Linked DNA regions of Homo sapiens: region 2 is linked to region 1. A link means that fine-mapping ties the variant in region 1 to the expression of a gene that starts in the linked region. Tissue or cell type: whole blood. Region 1 holds a variant in brackets; the other region holds the start of a gene. All regions are shown on one strand. Distances are from middle to middle.

Region 1 (8,000 bases):
GCCGTGACCCTCCCCGCGTGCTGAGCCCCCTCCCCCACAGATCGCGGTGGTCGTCAAGTACCTGTTCCAGTTTGGGTTCTTCCCCTGGAACAGCCACGTGGTGCTGCGGCGCTACGAGAACAAGCCCTACTTCCCGCCCCGCATCCTGGGCCTGGAGAAGACTGACGGCTACATCAAGTACGACCTGGTGCAGCTCATGGCCCTTTTCTTCCACCGCTCCCAGCTGCTGGTGAGTGTGAGCCTTGGCTGGCAATGCGGGGCTGGGCAGGCCCTCTGGGCACCTGTGCTCTCCACCAGGGAGGCAAGGCCCCCTCACCACACCCTCCCGCCCCTCAGTGCTATGGCCTCTGGGACCATGAGGAGGACTCACCATCCAAGGAGCATGACAAGAGCGGCGAGGAGGAGCAGGGAGCCGAGGAGGGGCCAGGGGTGCCTGCGGCCACCACCGAAGACCACATTCAGGTGGAAGCCAGGGTCGGACCCACGGACGGGACCCCAGAACCCCAAGTGGAGCTCAGGCCCCGTGATACGAGGCGCATCAGTCTACGTTTTAGAAGAAGGAAGAAGGAGGGCCCAGCACGGAAAGGAGCGGCAGCCATCGGTATAAGCGCCCTGCCTCACAACCTCCTGCCTACCCAGTTTTCTGAGTGGGGCTACTGCAGGGAGGGTCTTTCTCAGATGAGACGGCCAAGCCCAGTGCGAGGCCCACCTGGATCCCAGGAAGGTGCCACTTCTGAGCCACAGCTCCCGGCTCTGCCTACAGAGCCGTCCCTGACTGCTGCCCCCGGGGATGCTCCCCACGTGTAGGGTGACTGTTGGCCTGGGCTGGCCCCTCACAGTTGCCCCAGACAGAGGACACAGCCCCAGCTGTCTCCTTGCCAGTGACACTGGGAGCTTTCCTGTGCTCCGTCTGCTTGTCTGTCAAACAGGGAGAATGCCAGCCTCTTAGGGTGGTCAGGAGCCATGAGCCAGGCCCAGTCCCCAGGGGGCCCAGGCAGAAGTCAGCTTTTCCCTACAGAAGCTGAGGACAGGGAGGAAGAAGAGGGGGAGGAAGAGAAAGAGGCCCCCACGGGGAGAGAGAAGAGGCCAAGCCGCTCTGGAGGAAGAGTAAGGGCGGCCGGGCGGCGGCTGCAGGGCTTCTGCCTGTCCCTGTGAGTGATGGCGGCCGGGGGCAGCTGGGGAGTGGGGGTGGGGAGGCGGGTACTGGGCCCAGGCTGAGCGCCCCCTTCCGCAGGGCCCAGGGCACATATCGGCCGCTACGGCGCTTCTTCCACGACATCCTGCACACCAAGTACCGCGCAGCCACCGACGTCTATGCCCTCATGTTCCTGGCTGATGTTGTCGACTTCATCATCATCATTTTTGGCTTCTGGGCCTTTGGGGTGAGCCAGGCCCGGGACCCAAACCCAGTGTACGCAGAGCTCAGCAGCCACCCACATCCCCTGGGCTTGGCTCCCCCTGACCTGTGCTCTCCTGGCCACAGAAGCACTCGGCGGCCACAGACATCACGTCCTCCCTATCAGACGACCAGGTACCCGAGGCTTTCCTGGTCATGCTGCTGATCCAGTTCAGTACCATGGTGGTTGACCGCGCCCTCTACCTGCGCAAGACCGTGCTGGGCAAGCTGGCCTTCCAGGTGGCGCTGGTGCTGGCCATCCACCTATGGATGTTCTTCATCCTGCCCGCCGTCACTGAGAGGTGGGCCCACGCGTGGGGGCGCTCGGTCTCCAGGGGCGGGGCAGTGCAGGCTGGGGGCCCTGCGGGGCTGTTTCTGATGGGGTCCTTGACCTGGCCATCCCGCCCCAGGATGTTCAACCAGAATGTGGTGGCCCAGCTCTGGTACTTCGTGAAGTGCATCTACTTCGCCCTGTCCGCCTACCAGATCCGCTGCGGCTACCCCACCCGCATCCTCGGCAACTTCCTCACCAAGAAGTACAATCATCTCAACCTCTTCCTCTTCCAGGGGTGAGTGCAGGTCCGCCGGGGTGGGGGTCACGGCCCGGGCATGAGGGAGCCCACCTGACGGGAACCCTGGCTGTGGGCAGGTTCCGGCTGGTGCCGTTCCTGGTGGAGCTGCGGGCAGTGATGGACTGGGTGTGGACGGACACCACGCTGTCCCTGTCCAGCTGGATGTGTGTGGAGGACATCTATGCCAACATCTTCATCATCAAATGCAGCCGAGAGACAGAGAAGGTGCCTGGGCCCAGGGCGGGGGCCGGGACAAGGGCCAGGGATATGCCCTCTCCCTAAGACAGAGGCACTGCTGCCACGAGAACCCGTGGTGCTGGAGGCCCTCCCAGGGCTCGGAGCCCATGGGGACATGAGGCGAGCCCACCCACTAGCTGATCACGAGGCCAGTGATCTTGGCAGCTGCGAGTGAGTGCTGGGCGCAGAAGTGGGCAGCGGAGTTGGTCCTGTTCCAGGCAGGCTGGCAGCAGAGCAGGGCCTGGTGCAGGGAGGACCGGACAGCCACTGTTTGCTGCATTCTTGTTTAATGGCCTTTCTCAGAGAGAATTCGTGCGTCAGACCACTCCCCCACGTAAAAAGTACAACTCAGGGGTTTCTAGTGGATTCACAGTTGAGCATCTGCCTTCTCACCACTTCAAAAAGAAACCCCGGGCCGGGCACAGCGGCTCACCCCTATCATCCCAGCACTGTAAGAGACCCAGGAGGGAGGTACTGCTCAAGGCCAGGAGTTCAAGATCTGCACGGCCACAAGCGAGACCCTGCCTCAGCAAATGTAAAAATAAAACAATTAGCTGGCAATGGCAGCTCATGCCTATGGTCCCAGCACTTTGGGAGGCCAAAGGAGGAGGATCAGTTGAGGCCAGGAGTTTTAAGACCAGCCTGGGCAACATAGTGAGTGAGACTCTCTCTACAAAAAAATAAACGTTAGCTGGGTGTGATGGTGCACACTTGTGCTCCCAGCTACTCTGGAGGCTGAGGTGGGAGGATGGCTTGAGGCCAGGAGTACAGGGCTGCATTAAGCCTGATCACACCACTGCACTCCAGCTTGGGCAACAGAGTGAGACCCTGTCTCTAAAAAAGTAAAAAGAAGAAACCCAGTGCCCATTGGCTGTCACTCGGTTTCCCCTCCCCTGGCCCCTAGTAACCCCTTGTCTAGGTCCTGGTTCTATGAGATTTGCCTACAGTGGATATTTCATGAAAACAGGCTCAGACAGCGTTTGTCCTTTTGTAATCAGCTTTCCTTGCTCAGCATGGTGTCTCTGAGGTCCACCCACGTGGCAGTATGGCCTTCCTGTTTATGGGCAAATGATATTCTGTGGCATGGATGGACCACAACATGCTCATCTGTTGATGGGCTGTTGCCCGTGATGCTGCCAGGCACGCCGGTGTACACGTCTGTGTGCCCGTGCCCCTGGTCCTGTGGCTGCACGCCAGGGCCGGAAGTGCTGGTGGTGGTTTCCATCATGAGGAGCTGCTGGTTTTCCATAGCAGCTCCACCATCTAAGGTTCCCACCACCAACACGAGGTTGCGGTTTCTCCACATCCTCAACAACCTGTTACTATGTCTTTTTTGTTCTGGCCATGCTGCTGAACGGGTGGCTTGCTGTGGGCTCTTCTCAGTTCCCTGTTGACCGACGCTGAGCGTCTTTTCATGTGCTTGGCCATTTGTGTATCTTCTCTGGGGAAATGTCTATTCAAATCCTTTCTCCATAGTTTAGTTGGGCTTTTGAGATAGGATCTCAGGCTGAAGTGCAGTGGCATGACCTTCACTCACTGTAGCCTCTGCCTCCCAGGTTCAAGCGATTCTCCCACCTCAGCCTCCCGAGTAGCTGGGACTACAGGTGTGCACCACCAGGCCTGGCTAGTCTTTTGTATTTTTGGCCAGGTTCGTCTCAAACTCCTGACCTCAAAGTGCTGGGATGACAAGTGTGAGCCGCCACACCCAGCAGTTGGGTTGTTTTTTATTAGAGTTTTTTCTGTTTTTCTGCAGATACATTGGCTAGAAATGACTGAATTGGAAGAATTCTCTGTATTCTCTGGTTGCTAGAACCTTATCAATTAAAATTTGCAGAAAATTTCTCCAATTCTATGGACTGTCTCTTAAATTTTCTTGGTGTCTTTGGAAGCACAAAGTATTTATTTTGGTAATATCTGGTTTACTTTGTTTCCTTCGCCAAATCCAGGTTCATGAAGATTTGCCCGTTTTCTTCTAAAAGTTCTATAGTTTTAGCTCTGAAGTTTCGCTCTTTGATCCACTTTGAGGTAAATTTTGGCACATGGTATGAGGCAGGAGTTGCGTTTCATTCTCCTGCCTGGGGCGGTGCCTGCACCGTGTTGAAAAAGGTTGTCCGTTCCCACTGAACGGTCACAGCTCCCTTGTCTAAGATCAACGACCCCTGAACATGAGGGTTCCAACTGGACTCTTAGTTCTACTCCACTGGCCTGTGTCTGCCCACCATTACTACCGC[T/C]GTGCCATACTGAGGTCAGGCTGGGGCTTTTCTGGGCTGCTGGGTGAGCTGGAGAATGCGGTTGTGTGACCCGCAGGAAGGGCAGAGCTGAGCGTATGACCTGTGTCGTTCCCCTCCAGAAATACCCGCAGCCCAAAGGGCAGAAGAAGAAGAAGATCGTCAAGTACGGCATGGGTGGCCTCATCATCCTCTTCCTCATCGCCATCATCTGGTTCCCACTGCTCTTCATGTCGCTGGTGCGCTCCGTGGTTGGGGTTGTCAACCAGCCCATCGATGTCACCGTCACCCTGAAGCTGGGCGGCTATGAGGTGAGCATGTGTGGGTCCGCCTGTCCATTCCCATCCCCTGGGGGTTCTGGCCAAGGTGGTGCACCACCCCCAGCCGCTCCTCCACGCTCATCTTCGTGGCCCCGTGTCCCCGTGCCTGCCCCAGCCGCTGTTCACCATGAGCGCCCAGCAGCCGTCCATCATCCCCTTCACGGCCCAGGCCTATGAGGAGCTGTCCCGGCAGTTTGACCCCCAGCCGGTAAGTGGCCTCTGCCCTGTGAAAGCTGGTGTGGGGAGGCGGCTGCAGTCACTGAGGGTGTCACTTGTACCCAGCTGGCCATGCAGTTCATCAGCCAGTACAGCCCTGAGGACATCGTCACGGCGCAGATTGAGGGCAGCTCCGGGGCGCTGTGGCGCATCAGTCCCCCCAGCCGTGCCCAGATGAAGCGGGAGCTCTACAACGGCACGGCCGACATCACCCTGCGCTTCACCTGGAACTTCCAGAGGTTCGTCCTGGACTTGGGGCAGTGCCTGGGTGGGTGGACCCACTACAGTGGGTCACGCTGTGTTCCCACCCCCAGGGACCTGGCGAAGGGAGGCACTGTGGAGTATGCCAACGAGAAGCACATGCTGGCCCTGGCCCCCAACAGCACTGCACGGCGGCAGCTGGCCAGCCTGCTCGAGGGCACCTCGGACCAGTCTGTGTGAGTGAAGGGCCCGGGTGGTGGGCAGGAGGGCTGTGCCAGGTTGGCTGGGCCAGGCCTGACCTGCCAGCACCTCCCTGCAGGGTCATCCCTAATCTCTTCCCCAAGTACATCCGTGCCCCCAACGGGCCCGAAGCCAACCCTGTGAAGCAGCTGCAGCCCAGTGAGTATGGGCGTGGGGGTTGGGGGAGGCTAGAGAGGGGTGACCTGCGGCCTCAACGATCTTCTCCCTCCATCCCAGATGAGGAGGCCGACTACCTCGGCGTGCGTATCCAGCTGCGGAGGGAGCAGGGTGCGGGGGCCACCGGCTTCCTCGAATGGTGGGTCATCGAGCTGCAGGAGTGCCGGACCGACTGCAACCTGCTGCCCATGGTCATTTTCAGTGACAAGGTCAGCCCACCGAGCCTCGGCTTCCTGGCTGGCTACGGGTGAGTGAGTGGCTGGGGGGGCACCCCGCAGCTCGGGGGGCTCCGGGCGGCCCCAGGACTCACCAGCTTCCCCCGCAGCATCATGGGGCTGTACGTGTCCATCGTGCTGGTCATCGGCAAGTTCGTGCGCGGATTCTTCAGCGAGATCTCGCACTCCATTATGTTCGAGGAGCTGCCGTGCGTGGACCGCATCCTCAAGCTCTGCCAGGACATCTTCCTGGTGCGGGAGACTCGGGAGCTGGAGCTGGAGGAGGAGTTGTACGCCAAGCTCATCTTCCTCTACCGCTCACCGGAGACCATGATCAAGTGGACTCGTGAGAAGGAGTAGGAGCTGCTGCTGGCGCCCGAGAGGGAAGGAGCCGGCCTGCTGGGCAGCGTGGCCACAAGGGGCGGCACTCCTCAGGCCGGGGGAGCCACTGCCCCGTCCAAGGCCGCCAGCTGTGATGCATCCTCCCGGCCTGCCTGAGCCCTGATGCTGCTGTCAGAGAAGGACACTGCGTCCCCACGGCCTGCGTGGCGCTGCCGTCCCCCACGTGTACTGTAGAGTTTTTTTTTTAATTAAAAAATGTTTTATTTATACAAATGGACAATCAGAGGCCAGTCCCCCGTCCTTGCCTTCCGGCTCCAGTGTGGTGTACCAGGTGGCCACTGCCTGCTGTCCCGGCAAGCACGTCCTCACGCTCAGCTCTGGCCCGCCTCGTCGTCACTGTCCTCAATCAGACAGTCCCGGATCTCCTGCAAGCCCCAGGCCCTAGAGAGAAAGCTGCAGTGGGCACCAGCCCCGAGGCCCCTTACCCACGCGCCACGGCAGTGTGGGCCCCAGTACCTCTGTGTGCGGAGCTGGGCCTCAGCCAGGATGTACGGCGGCAGGGGGTCCAGTGAGGGCTGCAACAGAGGCCGGTGTCGAGGGGCCAAGAAACCTGCCAGCACCCCCTCAAGCCACCCACGAGGTGACGGCCTTCCCGCGTCCCCAAGCCCGGCCCAGGACAGGTGGGCACGTACTCACCAAGTCCTTCATGTTCACGCGGCAGCTGTAGCACAGCTGCTCCTCAATGCAGGCTTGGGGGTCCTCCCTGCGGGAGCAGAGCTGGCTGTGTGCCCACCTTGGCACCTCAATGCCGTGCAGTGTGGGGTAAGGACAGGTCCCCCTCCCGCCCCATGCAGCTGGCCATGGGTGGCAGGGACAGGGACTCACCTCCTGCAGGCCCCCTGGCCACAGCGCTGGGCCCAGCCCACCCCTGGAGAACAGCAGGGCCCCGGGGGTGTCCGGGTCTCAGTCAGGGGGATGGGTGACTGCATCTGGGAGAGACGCGAGGAGGTCTGAGCCCCAAAAGCCGTGGCACTGTCTGCAAGCAGAGAGGGGGTGACGGAGCCTGGGGCTGCTGAGCCCCCACACCCACTCCCTGGCTCCCTCCCCGCATCACCCCAAGAGCATGAAACACAGACCAGCGGCGTCGACGTCCAGGGCACACATGCAGAGGAGGCAGCGGGGGCCGGAGTCGCCAGCAGCAGGGCCATCCCGGGGGCCCTTCACCAGCTTCTCACTTGTCCTGTGGCCGGATTGTGGGAGGAGCAGGTGAATCACACGGGCTGGGGCTCCACCCTAAGCCCTGGCCTGAGCACGAGTGGTGAGCTCACCACCCGCACACACCCGCGCACAGCACACACCCGCGCACCCCCCGCACACACCCACACACACCCACACCTGTACACAGTGCTGACAGTGGAGGGGAACTGGGTCTGCAGCCTGAGGATGAAGGCCTCCATCAGCCGGTGGATGCTGGCCTTTTCAGGGGCCTAGGGACAATCAGATTGGAGGCTATGGGAAAGCCCAGAGGCCAGCCCCAGGCTGGGGCAGAGTCCCCAGGACAGGTGCCGTGGGTTCCACGCTGCTGGCCCACATGGGTCTGGCTTTGCTGCGACTGCTCAAGGCAGCCAGAGAACCCGCTTCAGCAGTGCACCCACTGTGGGGTCCTCCTGTCACCCCCACACCCTCACGGCACAGGGTGGGCTCAGAGGATGCAGCACTGCTGGGGGCCACAGCAGGAGTCACTGAAGGTGTGCTGGTGACCTGAGCCTGTGAGAGGCTGCCCAGCCCACATGGCCCACCCCGGTGTCAATGGTGAGAGAGGTTGCCCAGCCCACAAGGCCCACCTTGGTGTCGAC
Region 2 (8,000 bases), 68 kb before region 1:
TGTCTCACACACACACACACAAGTTCATCCCTGTTGTAGCGTACATCAGAGTTTCATTTCTTTTTATGGACAAATAATATCAGATTGTATGAACAGACCACATTTTGTTTCTACACTCCATTAACAGACTCTGGGGTTGCTGCCTCTTGAAATTATTATTTATTTTATTACTTTTTTTGAGACAGGGTCTTGCTCTTTCACCCAGGCAGGAGTGCAGTGGCATGATCTCAGCTCACTGCAATCTCCACCTCCTGGGATCAAGCGATTCTCCCGCCTCAGCCTCCCGAGTAGCTGGAACCACAGGCATGCGCTACCATGCCCGGCTAATTTTTGTATTTTTAGTAGAGACAGGGTTTCACCATGTTGGCCAGGCTGGTCTTGAACCCCTGACCTCAAGTGATCCACCCACCTCAGCCTCCCAAAGTGCTGGTGTTGCAGGTGTGAGCCACAGTGCCCGGCCAAAATTATTATTATTTTTGAGACAGGGTCTTGGCCTGTTGTCCAGGCCGGAGTGCAGTGGCGCCATCACTACTCACTGCAGCCTCCACCTCCTGGGCTCTAGAGATCCTCCCACCTCAGCCTCCTAAGTAGCCGGGACCACAGGCAGGCACCACCACATCTGGCTAATTTTTTTTTTTTTTGAGGCGGAGTCTCGCTCTGTCACCCAGGCTGGAGTGTAATGGCATGGTCTTGGCTCACTGCAACCTCTGCCTCCCGGGTTCAAGCGATTCTGCCTCAGCTTCCCGAGTAGCTGGGATTACAGGTGCCTGCTGCCACGCCTGGCTAATTTTTGTATTTTAGTAGAGACAGGGTTTCACCATGTTGGCCAGGCTGGTCTCGAACTCCTGACCCTGTGATCCACCCGCCTCAGCCTCCCAAAGTGCTGGGATTACAGGCATGAGGCACCATGCCTGCCTGGCATGCCTGGCTAATTTTTATTTTTTGTATAGATGGGGTCTTGCTGTGTTGTCCAGGCTGGTCTCCAACTCCTGGCCACAAGCCATTCTCCTGCCTTAGGCCCCCAAAGTGTTGGGATTACAGACGTGAGCCACCACACCCAGCCTGAAATTAATTTTTAAGTATAGACAAGTAATGGTGACTATGTTATCATTGGGGAAAAAGTTACAACCTGCATGATAAAGCTTAAAGTCCCTGTGACCCCTCTTGCCCTGGCTTTTCCTCTCTCCCAAGGGGACCTGACCATTGTTGCTCTCCCAAGACTAAGTCACTGGCCGGGCATGGTGGCTCACACCTGTAATCCCAGCAGTTTGGGAGGTCAAGGCAGGCGGATCATTTGAGGTCAGGAGTTCAAGACCTGGCCAACATTTTGAAATCCCATCTCTACTAAAAATACAAAAGTTGGCCAGGTGTGGTGGCACACGCCTGTGATCCCAGCTACTTGGGAGGTTGAGGCAGGAGAATCACTAGAACTCAGGAGGCGGAGGGTGCAGTGAGCCGAGATTGCTCCACTGCACTCCAGCCTGGACAACAGTGGCAGACTTTGTCTCAAGAAAATACAATAAAATAAAAAATAAATCACTGTTTTAAACAGTGACAAAAATAAAAAGCAACAGCAAGTTGAGAAAGGGCTCCCAGCTGTGGGTCAGTGGGACAGGAGTGACTTTGGACTTGGAATCTGGAAAGCTGGGTGCAAAGGCCGGTCTATTCCTTTGGCAAATGGTTATCCCGCTCTGGCCCTTAGCGTCCTCTTCTGCAACAGGGGTTGAGTTAGAACACGGTCCAAATTCCTGAACGGGCAGTGAACTGGGCACAGGTGGGCTCCCCTGCCCTTGCCCGCCCCACCTCTCCCTGGCTGGCAAGCAGAGATCTTTTTCAGAGTATTTGTCTCCATTTTGCTAATTTTATTTTGTGAATAAGTGAATTATGTATGAAGCAAAATATTAAAACAGCACCAAAGGGTATAGGTGAAGACCAGGTCTCCCTCCCACCCCAAGTGGGTGAGCGTGGCCCTGAGTGTAGCTGCTTGCTTTTCCCAATTGTTAGCACTGTAACTTAGCAATTGTTCCTCCTTGATAACAGAGCAATTGCGGGATTCTCTCTAACCGCTGCTACAGAGTGCCATTGTATCTTAGCTTCATGTTGATACAAAACACCTAGCCGGATTCTGTTTTTTACCTGCTGTGTAGCACTCCACTGTGAGACACGCTATCATTTATTTGACAAGCTTCTGTGGGCAGAGTTTTTCTGCTTTTTGCTGCTTGAACAATTCTAGGACACATACATCCTCTACCTTTGCAAGTCCATCTGCAGGGCAAGCTCCCAGACTTCCCCACCTCTGCAGCAACTTTTCAAAGCCTGACCAGAGGGTGAGACTTGCAGAGAAAGTAAATCAGCCTTTTTTTTTTTTCTTCTTTGAGATGGAGTCTCATTCTGTTGCCCAGGCTGGAGTGCAGTGGGGTGATCTCGGCTCACTGCAAGCTCCGCCTCCCGGGTTCACGCCATTCTCCTGCCTCAGCCTTCCGAGTAGCTGGGACTACAGGCGCCCGCCACCGCGCCCGGCTAATTTTTTGTATTTTTAGTAGAGATGGGGTTTCACCGTGTTAGCCAGGATGGTCTCCATCTGCTGACCTCGTGATCCACCCGCCTCGGCCTCCAAAAGTGCTGGGATTACAGGCGTGAGCCACCGCACCCGGCCTATATCAGCCTTTAAACACTAGACTTCCCATGAAAATCTCCATTTCTGGGTGGTTTTTTTTTTTTTAATGGAGTTTCGTTCTTGTCACTCAGGCTGGAGTGCAATGGCATGATCTCGGCTCACGGCAACCTCTGCCTCCCAGGTTCAAGCGATTTTCCTGCCTCGGCCTCCTGAGTAGTTGGGAATACAGGCGCCTGCCATCACGCCCGGCTAATTTTTGTATATTTATTTATTTATTTATTTATTTATTTATTTATTTATTGAGACGGAGTCTGGCTCTGTCGCCCAGGCTGGAGTGCAGTGGCGCTATCTCGGCTCACTGCAAGCTCCGCCTCCTGGGTTGATGCCATTCTCCTGCCTCAGCCTCCCGAGTAGTTGGGACTACAGGAGCCCGCCACCACGCCCGGCTAATTTTTTATGTTTTTAGTAGAGATGGGTTTTCACCGTGTTAGCCAGGATGGTCTCGATCTCCTGACCTGGTGATCCACCCGCCTCGGCCTCCCAAAGTGCTGGGATTACAGGCGTGAGCCACCGCGCCCGGCCTAATTTTTGTATTTTTAGTAGAGACGGGGTTTCACCATGTTGGCCAGGCTGGTCTCGAACTCCTGACGTCAAGTGATCCCCCGACCCCCTACCCCCTTGCCTCAGCCCCGCAAAGTGCTGGGATTACAGGCCTGAGCCACTGCCCCGCCATCTTTTTTTTTTTTTTTTTTTTTTGAGCTGGAGGGTGTGGGCTTGTGCTGGGCTCTCATGAGTTGCCAGTGCCTTGAGGCTCAGTGGCCACAGTCCCCCCAGCCCCACTCCCTGCCTTACGCAGCTGAGTTTGAGAGCCATGAACTGAGCCCAATTAAACGGTGTAGAGCCCTTTGCCCTCTTTCTGTGCCCATCTCAAGGGCAGACGAAGGCCAAACTGACGTGGCCTGGGTGAGGGTCCCGAACACCCTGGACTCAGACCCTACCTCTCCGTGGCAGGGCGCCGCGGCAGCAGGTGCACAGGCCGTGGCTCTCACTCTCACCGTCTCACGCCAGAGCGACCCGGGCAAAGCCGCGCGCGGTGGCCGGCGTGGCTGGGAGCAGCCCCCGAGCCCCCGTCAGACCAACGCGGATCGCGGCACTGCTGCGACCCGAGCATCCCGCGTGCTCCCTCCGGGACCACTAGGCCCGGCCGCCGCGGGAACTCCGAGCCTCCCCACGGTCCCCAGGGGGCGCTGCGTGCTCGCGCCTCGGGGAGCAAAGCGAAAGTCGCTCGGGCACGCGGGGTGCAGTTGCGCGTGGGGCGCTGCCTGGGGGAGCCAGAGGCCCCGGGACCCCTTATGTAGCGCCCGGGCCCCAGCCGCAGCCCACCCAGCGAGAAGCGCCCCTGCCCACCGCCGCGCACGCTCGGAGCCGCGGGGCCAAGACTGCGGGAGGGGAGGGGTCCGCTCCGGGCCAGCGCCAGTCGGGGGTCTCCAGGCCCCAACGCACCAGGGCGGGCCGGAGGCGGGACGGGCCGCGCGGGACAGCGGAGGGGGTGCCTGGGCGCGCCGGGCCGTCGGGGAAGCGCGGAGGCGGGCACGCCGGGGAGGGCGGGAGGGGGCCGAGCTTATAAAGGCCCGCGGGCGGAGGAGGGCGGGAGCCGCCGTCCGGCCCAGCTCGGCCCCAGTGAGCCGAGCGCTGCGCTCCGCCGAGGGGCAGGGCGGTCGCCTGAGCGAGCGCGGGCCCGGGACGTCGGCACCGGCGGGGCGGCCGAAGGAGAAGGAGGAAGAGGAGAAGGCGGCGCGCGGGTCCCCGCGGGTCAGCCATGGCGCGCCGGCCCCGGGGCCCCCGCACCGCCCCATAGCGCCGCGGCGTCCGCTCGGTCTGGGCCGGGCCCTGGGCCCTCCAGCCATGGAGCCGCACGTGCTCGGCGCGGTCCTGTACTGGCTGCTGCTGCCCTGCGCGCTGCTGGCTGGTGAGTGGGGGGCGGGCGCCTGGGGGCGACGGGAGGGGGCTGCGTCTCGGCTCCCCACGGCCTGGACACCGGACGACGCCGGCCGGGGCGAGGGCTGCGGGCGAGCGGGCGCGGAAATTCCCAGGGACGCGCGACCCGGGCGCCCGCATTCCTGAAGCATGAGCGCGCCAGGCGGCGGCGGGGCTCCTGTCCCAGGGCCGGGCTGGAAGGGCGGCGGCGGCTGGGGGAGACGGCACCGCGTGCCCACGGGGGCGGTCGAGCGAGCGCCGGGCATAGCGCGGCTGGCGTCTCCGCCGGGGCGCTGCGGAGAGGAGGCCGCCGGGCGAGGCGGTGTTTGCCCCGGTGGGAAGGGCCGCGGCGGTGGTGGGGGGAGCACGAATCTCTTTTTCTCTTTCGGGTTTAAAAAAAAAAGCGCAAAGTTGCATCAGGACTTCCTGACAATCTGGGAGAAGGCGGGCTTCCTGCCTGGAGCTGTTTAATTTGGAGCTTCCCGAGCCCAACGAACGTCCGTGCCCAGGGCCCAGCCCCGCTCACCGCTGCACCCCCCTCTGCCGGACTGAGGCGGTCCCACACTTTGGAAAAAAATAGTGTGGGTTCCTCCCTGGTCCTCCCTTGCCCTACTGGGCTCAGTTTCGCAGGGGCGGGGGCCGGCCTCTGCCCTGGTCTGGGGGAGGGGACACCCCCGGAGGCTGTGGCCTGGTGTCAGGGCGGGGCAGGGGTCCCCAGTCCTGGCATCTGTGTTCCCTGCTTGCCGGGCAGTGGTGCCCCTTTCGCGAAGCACACCCGGGTGGCTTGGTGCTGCACGGCCTGGCACCCCTACCCTTCCCCGACCCTGGCCTAGCCGGGACCCAGGGTCCGCGCCCTCCGCCCGGGGGCTCCCCACGTGTGATTGATCTGGGAAGCAGTCGGATGGAATTAACCCACGGACAAGTGGGACGGTTTGCATTGGGAGTCCGCCATGGACACGGCAGGTGGGGCCTTTTGATTGTAAAAGCCCTTTCGGAGCCCTTGCCTCGCTCCAGGTGGGAGCTCGCCCAGCGCTAGCTTTGGGGATCTAGAGCCGCCTGCCTGAGGCTCCCAGACAGACTGCGTTTTGATCGGTCGCACAGAAAGGTGGTGAAACTTGGGGAAGATTTTCTAGACAGGAATCAATGAAAACCATTGAGGCTGGAGAGGAGAGGTTTTGAGCAACTCTCTTCAGTGCGGTCAGCCCTGTGTGGACTGGGCAGCCTGGGACCTGCTCCCAGTGCAGGGTCAGATGGGCCGTAAACAGGGCCCGGCTGTGTTCCTTCCTGTGCCTTGAAAACAAGCAGGACAGCCTGGCACAGAGGCAGAGTCTAGAGCTGACAGGCCTTAGAGAGGGAAACAGGAAAGCTTCTGAAACGTCCCGTTCACACTGATCGTTCCATTTCCTCTTGTGTCTGAGTGGGAGCGGGTGTCCTCCCTGCAGGGAATGCCCCCCCTCTCAGATGGCAGCTGCTCCTTGGGCAGAGTTGGCAATGTTTTTCTTTAAATGACCAGATGGTAAATATTTTCATGTCACAAAATCTTCTTCTTCTGGTATTTTTCCAGCCATTAAATGTAAAAGCCCTCCTGAGTTCATGGGCTGTACCTAAACAGGTGTTGAGCCCGATTCTGTGGCACATGTGGTTTGCTGCCCCCTGGGCATTGGTCAGGGGGCCTGGGTTCTGCCTTCTCGATTGCTATCCGCGTGGGGGATCTGGGGGAGGGATCACTGTTCTTCTTGCTTTTGGCCTCCTTGGGGAGGATGGGGAGGTAGCCCAGGGGTGCTCACCCAGGCCCCGTGTCAGTCTTCTATGAAACTTTTAAAGAATAGTGATGACTGACTGTCTGTCTGTATGGTACTTTCCTTAAACCTAAAACTGGTCCCAAATAAAGTCTCTTAATTTGAAAGATGCTGAAGCCCGGGCCATACCCCACACTGATTCTGTGTCTGGGGATGGGGCGTGGGGCCTGGGCCTCACTCAGTGTTTTCTCTCAGTCACCTGGGGGAGATGGAAGTGGAGCCGGCCAAGAACCCTGCCTGCCTGCCTGCTGGCCGGGACTCCTGAGTCAGGCTCTCTGGCCCTGGGGTGTGGGCAGCTCCAGATGGACCCGCGATGTGCAGGTTCAGCTGGCCTGGCCGGAGGTGGGACACTGGCTTTGCTGTCTTTGGAGTGCCCCCTCCCTCTCTGGCGAGCTTTGGCTGGAAGCAGTTCTACCGTGTTTTGGAAATGAATGAGGCCTTCAGAAGGCATTAGTCAGTGTGTGCCTGCGCTGGCTCAGACAGTGCCTGGTGAGGGTTTGAGTCATCCTGGGGTGCCCCTGGCCCCCACGCCCTCCCTCTCCAGTGCAGGATCATTACCCAAAAATCTGGCAGGGAGCTGCCCCACCCACAGGGAGCAGGGGCCTCCTTCAGCAGTCTCACCTAATGTTGCTGGAGCCTTGGGGGATCAGGGCCCATCTCTTCTAGAGAGATGTCAGGGCAGGGCTGGGCGCGATGGCTCACACCTGTAATCCCAGAGCTTCGGGAGGCCAAGGTGGGAGGATTGCTTGAGCGTAGCCATTCGAGAGCAGCCTGGGCAACGTAGAGATCCCCATCTCTATGAAAAATATTTAAAAATTAGCTGGGCATGGTGGTAGTGCACCTGTAGTCCCAGCTACTCAGGAGGCCAAGGTGGGATGATTGTTTGAGTCCAGGAGTTGGAGGCTACAGTGAGCCATGATTGTATGACTGCACTCCAGCCTGGGTGACAGACCCTGTCTCAAAAAAGAAAAAGGAAAAAAAAGGGCAGGACATTTGTGATTCTGATAATATGGGACCGCACCTCCAGTTCTATCAGTGGGAAATCTAGACAGGGCTGCGGAAAGCCAGCTGGTGCGAGAGGAGCCACCGTGTCACTGACTGTGGGACACCCACGTGGGCTGACAATATGGCTTCTGCTTTTCAGGGTGCCTCGTGGCACAGCCTAGGGGCACACCCACGGCCGGCAAGCTGGGCGTCACCTCCTTCAGGCTGATTGTCACTGAGAAGTGTCACCATTTAGCATGAGGGATGCTGCCTCCTTTTTCAGAACATTGTCACCATCAGGGTCTCACCACTCCTGGGAGGCGGCCGAGAAGCTGGGGAACAGCAGGCACTCGGCTCACAGTTGCTCAGCAGTGCAGACCCTCTGAGCTGAGCATGGCAGAGTCACCCTTCGGAGGCCTGTGCCCGGGTCTCAGGACCTGCACAGAACCCTGGCCTGTCCCATCCGAGGGTGCTGGGAAGAGCATGGCCGTGGCAGAGTAGGGTGGGAGCTGCTTTCCTCTGTGGCTTGGGGGCCCCTTCTGAGCATCAGCTCCCTGGTGTGACAGAGGGGCGCACTCTGTCCCCATGCTGGGCCTGGAGGCTGGATGAGTCAGCAGGAGAGC

The links. PIP is the estimated chance that this variant, and not a neighbour inherited with it, causes the effect.
Region 2: PIEZO1 starts here. The variant in region 1 is fine-mapped to the expression of PIEZO1 in whole blood (TOPMed, PIP above 0.99). The same link has a PIP of 0.9 or more in esophagus muscle, hypothalamus and lung.

The regions. Positions count from the first base shown.
Region 1 is chr16:88,713,767-88,721,766 of GRCh38, reverse strand. It overlaps CTU2 (cytosolic thiouridylase subunit 2), which reads right to left. Exons shown (of 15, transcript NM_001012759.3): 9 at 7,989-8,000; 10 at 7,540-7,631; 11 at 7,281-7,384; 12 at 7,030-7,180; 13 at 6,841-6,907; 14 at 6,661-6,719; 15 at 6,371-6,585. The coding sequence ends at 6,516. It overlaps PIEZO1 (piezo type mechanosensitive ion channel component 1 (Er blood group)), which reads left to right. Exons shown (of 51, transcript NM_001142864.4): 38 at 41-229; 39 at 337-601; 40 at 1,019-1,151; 41 at 1,235-1,382; 42 at 1,484-1,698; 43 at 1,807-1,965; 44 at 2,046-2,193; 45 at 4,556-4,744; 46 at 4,869-4,961; 47 at 5,036-5,208; 48 at 5,284-5,406; 49 at 5,490-5,569; 50 at 5,648-5,834; 51 at 5,913-6,429. The coding sequence ends at 6,162. MIR4722 (microRNA 4722) reads left to right here and starts at 5,430; the gene lies at 5,430-5,489. The variant T/C (reference allele first, on the strand shown) is at 4,437.
Region 2 is chr16:88,781,487-88,789,486 of GRCh38, reverse strand. PIEZO1 (piezo type mechanosensitive ion channel component 1 (Er blood group)) reads left to right here and starts at 4,267. Exons shown (of 51, transcript NM_001142864.4): 1 at 4,267-4,586. The coding sequence starts at 4,523. RefSeq lists silencers at 3,769-4,098, 4,139-4,618, 5,119-5,438 and enhancers at 4,123-5,036, 7,519-7,598, 7,609-7,978, 7,999-8,000.